Linked DNA regions of Homo sapiens: region 2 is linked to region 1. The links come from fine-mapping of genetic effects on gene expression. A gene starts in region 1. The other region holds a variant in brackets. All regions are shown on one strand. Distances are from middle to middle.

Region 1 (2,756 bases):
CCTGCTCCGAAATTCTTCAGACCTGATGAAGAGGTGTCCCAGAAGCGGGTGGTGCTCCAGGCCCGCCTCACCAGCTCCAGGGAGGTCAAGGTTGGAGAGAGACAATTCTAGGGGCGAACCAGACATAGCCAAGAGCAGCTCATCTTCCCTGGAGAGGACGGGCTGCCCACTTGCACAGCCCGGGGGCCTCCTGCCCCTAGACCTGGTACCTTCACTCTTGTTGCCACCCCTACATTCATACCTGCGCCCCAGTCTGAGCCACACCTAGGCCCCCAGCTGAAGTGACACTGTGGGTGCCAGGCATCTGAGGTCTCCACAAGCCCCCACAGACTCAGGGTGGGAATTCCTGGGGGCCAGAGCTGCAGAGGGTGCTGCCTGGGGGTGCTGGGCTGGACGGGGGTCCTGGTTGTCCCTCCTGGTTCTCCTGGTTCTCCCTCCGCAGAGGGAGGGAGGCGGTGGCCTCAGCAGTTCCTCCAGCAGCGTTCCTGAGCGGGCGGCAGCTGGGCCCTCTTCCCACAGCCACGCTGGGGTTGCCATGCCTGCAGGTCTTGGGGCCCCCTCCCCCTTGATGAGGTCCTGACCAAATGCAGGAGGAGCAATTCCAGCACCGAGGGGCGAGCAGAGCCGCCTGTTAGCACTCCTGGGAGGGCCCGGAGTGGTCCCTGAATGATGGATTCACCTGGAACATTTTCACCCTCTTCAGGCCCACCCTGCCCCAGAGGCCCACGGAAACCCTGCCTGTACTGGGGCCGCAGCGCTGCCCCCACCCATACGTAATTACACGGCTCGGTGTAATTGCAAATTCGAGGTTTACAAAGCCTCCCCCTGGAGGCCCCACGTGAGTGTGAGCGAGGCCCCAGCCCACCCCTGTGGCCCCAAGAAGGCTCTGCGACAAAATATCCATGAGTGCCGCCCACGAAGGCATTAAAACCAACGACCTTCTCAAAACTTAAGCTGTCACAGGACATTTCAAAGGGTGTTTCCTAAGAACACCTCAATAATGATGTTCCAAGGAGACCCCATCCAAATTCCTCCAAGGATTACGCCCCCAAGGCCCAGTCCACACTTGCTCACTCCCAGGACGGGGAGCTCACCTCCTCCTCCCCGGGCGCCGTCTCCTCCACATCCCACACCAGGTCCTGCCCATGACTTTCCCCCTCTCAGCGCCGTCCTCAGTGGCCACACCAAGAACGAGGCCATGTCTTCCTGGGAAGGGCCTCAGATGTCAGCAAATGCCCTGGTGTCTTGGGCTGGGCTGGGGGCACCAGGGTGAGGTGGTGGGGGGAGCCAACCTCACTGCCCCTCCCCTTCCTGCCTGCCCTTCTTCCGGGGCACCCAGCAGCTCGGTCCTAGGGCGATGTTGACAGACAGACAGAGGGGCGGATGCAGCCTACCTCCTGGGCAGTGAGCTGCGGTCTGAGGCCCCTGCCCAGCTGGAAACCACAGGGAGGGGAAGGGAGGGGAGGAGAGGAGAGGAGAGGAACCGTCATGGGGCCTTGGAGTCGAGTCAGGGTTGCCAAATGCCAGATGCTGGTCACCTGCTTCTTTATCTTGGTAACAGGCAGGTCGGGCAGGAGTGGGTGGTGGGTGGGGGTGAGCAGGGGTGAGGGGTGGCAGGGCCTCAGCACAGGGATTATCCCTCCCCTGACACACACACCAGCCCTACTGTCCCTGTCCTGCCCTTGCAGACATGTGTCCTGCCCTTGCAGACAGCCGCAGGCAGGCAGGGACCACCATGAGCAACCCCGTCTCTCCTCCTGAGGGGCAGCACAGAGCCTGGAGGAGGCCTGAGTGGGGCTGAGGCCTGGGGCGAGCTGGGGTGGAGGGGCACTGGCTGCCGGGCTCCAGGGATCTTCTCCCCTTCCTGCCCCGGAGGGTGCTGGCACAGGGGTGGGGCTCACTCCCACTCCGTAGACACAATGATCAGAGGTCCTGGGTGTCTGGGGAAGCTGGGCTGTGCGTGTATGCGTCTACCATGTGGGGGTGCCTGTGAGTGTGCTGGGGCGTCTGCAGTGAAGGCCTCCTGAGACCACTCCACGGAAACACCGGGAATCCCTGCAGCTGAGCCTGTCTCTCACGGGACCGGGAAGCTGGAGAGAGCCCCAACCCTGCCCGCTGGGGCCGAGCTCCCTGCTCCTGCAGCAGTCCCATGCCCCACACTCTGAGTCTGCCCTATCCACAGCTGCTGGGCCTCTCTGTGGCCACCATGGTGACTCTTACCTACTTCGGGGCCCACTTTGCTGTCATCCGCCGAGCGTCCCTGGAGAAGAACCCGTACCAGGCTGTGCACCAATGGGGTAAGTGAGGTCCAGGCCTGGCTGCATCGGGAGGGGCCTCGGGTGCAAGGGTGGCTGGCACGAGCCCAGCTGGACGCCTCACAGCCAGAATGGTGCCAGGCCCTAGGCAGGAGCCAGAGGTGGTCAGGGGCAGGGAGGGGCTGCCCTGGAGTCCTAGCTCCCCTGGGCAGGGCCTCGGGTCTGGGTGACAGCCAGTGTTCCTGCCTGGTTCTCGTGCCCCACAGGAGCGTGGGCACAGTGTGGGTATATGTCGGGCAGGGTCAGGAAGTGGCTCTGTGCGGTCAGGACCTGGCTCTGTGCAGTCAGGGCTCAGTCCCAGGCAGGCCTGGGACTGGCCTGGGGCTGGGCACAGCAGGTCCATGAGGGCTCCACATGGCTGATGTTCCACTCAGGACCTGGGATGTGGGTGGGGAGGGGGTGGGGGCTGCTCTAGCCAGACGCCTCCCTGCAGGGACTCAG
Region 2 (3,011 bases), 63 kb after region 1:
CTGATGGGTCTGCACCAATCGGGGCTGCTTGTTAAGCATGACTAAAGTCTCCTGCAGTCGTCTGCTAGGACTGCCACAGCAAAGCGCCACAGTCTGGCAGCCTTCACAGAGACATTTATCTCCCCAGCCCTGGGGGCCTCAAGTCCAAGCTCAAGTTGTTGTTGGGGCTGGTTCCTTCGGGGGCTACGAGGTGGCCTCTGCCCAGTCCCTCCAGCCTCTGCCCAGTCCCTCCAGCCTCTGGGGCTCCCAGGCAGCCTCGTGTTTCTTGGCTCGTGGAGCATCACTCTAATCTCTGCCTTCACCTTCACATGGCGTCCTTCCTGTGTGTGCGTCTGCATCCAACTTCCCCTGTTCCTAAGGTCACCGGTCAGATCTGAGCAGGATACTAATGGCCATATCTTAGTTACATCTGCAGTGACCCTATTTCCAAATAAGGTCACATATGAGGCACTGAAGGTCGGGACTGCAACATGCTTGTTCTCCTATCATGGAATCAGACCAGCAGGTGGGTCACATTCCGCCAGAGGGAGAGTGGGCAGACGCCCAAAGGGCTGGATGTATACAGCTCCAGGAAGAACCGCAGTTGCAGCTGCTTGGACAGGTGTGGGCACTCACAGCCTCCCATGACAGCCCTGGCTGGGGGCTCCATCCACAGCCCCTGGTGGGGTGGGGCAAGGCCCTTCCTTCTGACCCACAGGACCTTGGACCCCTGGGGCACTGCAGAGGGACTCAGGGTCAGACCAGCAGCCTTTGACATGGCCAAGAGTGAAAGTGATGGGGACCCACGAGCCATCAGAGCTCTGTCTCCAGAGCCTGCACAGGGAGTGTTGGGACAAGGAGCAAAGGAATCGGGAGCACATCAAGGCAGGCACCAGATTTGGAAGAACGCCCCGGGGGAGGTGCTCCCAGGCGAGTGGGGCAGAGGGCAGTCTCCTCCTGGGCTTCCCTGGGTCCCAGCCCGGCCCGGCTGGGCGTCCCACTGTCTTTGGTGTGGTGTGCTCCCTGCCTGTGGCCCTGTGATGGGAGTCCTGCTTCTCTAAACAGTGAGACCCTCACAGAACCCGTCAGCATGTCCAAAGCACCTGGAGGAGAAAAGATTTGTCTCCTCATTCGTCACTAGGTTCATGGTTGAGGCTCTCACAGCAAAAGACAGATTAACAAGAGAAAAGCAGACACATTTATTCAATATAAGTTTCATCTCGTATAGGAGCCTTCGGAAATGAGGACCCAGCACTTCGGGAGGCCGAGGTGGACAGACCATTTGAAGTCAGGAGTTCCGAGACCAGCCTGGCCAACATGGTGAAACCCCATCTCTACTAAAAATACAAAATTAGCCGGGCATGGTGGCATGTGCCTGCAGTCCCAGCTACCGGGGTGGCTGAGGCAGGAGACTTGCTTGAACCCGGGAGGTGGAGGTTGCAGTGAGCCGAGATCACGCCATTACACTTCAGCCAGGGTGACAGAGTGAAACTCCGTCTCAAAAAAAAAAAAAAAAAGAAAAAGAAAAGGAAAAAGAAATGAGGACCCAAGGGAAGAGGGAAACCCGTGTATTTTTATGTGGAGTTTGATGGAGAGTCATGCAGAGTGTGATTGGATTAGACAAAGTGGGTGTACTCGTCCGTTCTTGCACTGTATAAAGAATACTTGAGACTGCGTAATTCATAAAGAAAGGAGGTTTACTTGGCTTACAGTTCCCCAGGCTGTACAGAAAGCATGGTGCTGGCATCCACATGGCTTCTGGGGGCGGGCTCAGGAAACTTACAATCATGGCGGAAGGCAAAGGAGGAGCTGGCACTTCAC[G/T]TGGCCGGAGCAGGAGGAAGCCCAGAGGGAGAGAGGGGAGGTGCCATATGCCTTTAAACAAGCAGGTCTCATGAGAACTCACTATCACGAGAACAGCACTGGGGGGAAATCCACCCCCATGAGCCAATCACCTCCAGCAGGCCCCACCTCCAGCATTGGGGATTACAATTCAACATGAGATTTAGGCAGGTACACAGATCCAAACCGTATCAGGGTGTGGCCTAATGGTGATACACTGGGGAGACTTGGCCTGTGGTCTTAGTCCATCGTGTGCTGTTAGAACAGAAAACCACAGACTGGCTAACTTATTGGCCCCTGGTCCTAGAGGCTGGGAGGTCCGAGATCGACAGGCCACCTCTGGCAAGGGTCTTTGTGCTGCCTTATCCCATGACAGAAGGGCAAAGAGAGGGAGAGAGAGACAGCCAGAGAGAAGGGGACCAAACTCATCCTTCTGTCAGAGCCCGCTCCCACGACAATGATGTTAGTCCATCATGATTACAGAGATGGGGGACACATTCAGACCACAGCAGCCCCCTCAACCCGCACACACTGCACATTGAGGGGAGGGCCGGGAGACTGGAAGGAAACATCAGAGTCTGGAGAAGACCACCAGGATCACCAGGGCTATGCTCTCACCCGGCACCCAGCACCGAGGGGCTCATGGGAAACAAGACGGGTCTCTCGGTGCACGAGTGCTGGGCACACATAGTCCACCGTGCATCCTGGGCTGATGATCTGGACCCTGGTCCTGTGCAGCCCTGGGGTGGGGCTCCAGGCTGAGATCAGCCACGTCTGGGGGAGGAGACAGTGTTCCCAGTCTCACCTTGCCCCACGGACTCTGACAGGGGTTGAAGAAGCAAGGAGGCTCCAAGGACTGGGGAGGGGGAGTCTGGCCGACGATCTAGGAGCATCAAGGCGCCTGCTCCCTCTCGGCGTGGCCCGGTCCTGTAGGTGGTCAGTTATGCAATGCCACTGCCTTCCTACCTCACAAGGAGGGTGGGTGGACTCAGAAGCCAGGCCCAGGCTTCCTTCTTGGCTCAGGCAAGGAACATAGGGGGCTTTGAGCTTTGCTTATTCATTTAACAACTGAACCCCTAGTCTGTGCCAGGCCCCCATTTAAATGGTCCCTGGGATACAGCAGGGTCCAGAATGGGCCCAGACCCTGCCCCCATAGCTGACCTTCTGGAGAGCCTGAGGAGTGAGGGGTGCCC

The links. PIP is the estimated chance that this variant, and not a neighbour inherited with it, causes the effect. A credible set is the group of variants that fine-mapping cannot tell apart.
Region 2: its variant is the best candidate, but not a certain one, in a credible set for the expression of TSPAN32 in whole blood (TOPMed, PIP 0.89).

The regions. Positions count from the first base shown.
Region 1 is chr11:2,300,662-2,303,417 of GRCh38, forward strand. It overlaps TSPAN32 (tetraspanin 32), which reads left to right and starts at 1,352. Exons shown (of 10, transcript NM_139022.3): 1 at 1,352-1,554; 2 at 2,183-2,297. The coding sequence starts at 1,489. C11orf21 (chromosome 11 open reading frame 21) reads right to left here and starts at 1,257. Exons shown (of 4, transcript NM_001329958.2): 1 at 1,095-1,257. The coding sequence starts at 1,147.
Region 2 is chr11:2,363,239-2,366,249 of GRCh38, forward strand. The region is part of intron 1 of CD81-AS1 (CD81 antisense RNA 1); the gene reads right to left. Among named protein-coding and RNA genes, the nearest start is that of CD81, 13 kb to the right of the region's middle. The variant G/T (reference allele first, on the strand shown) is at 1,801.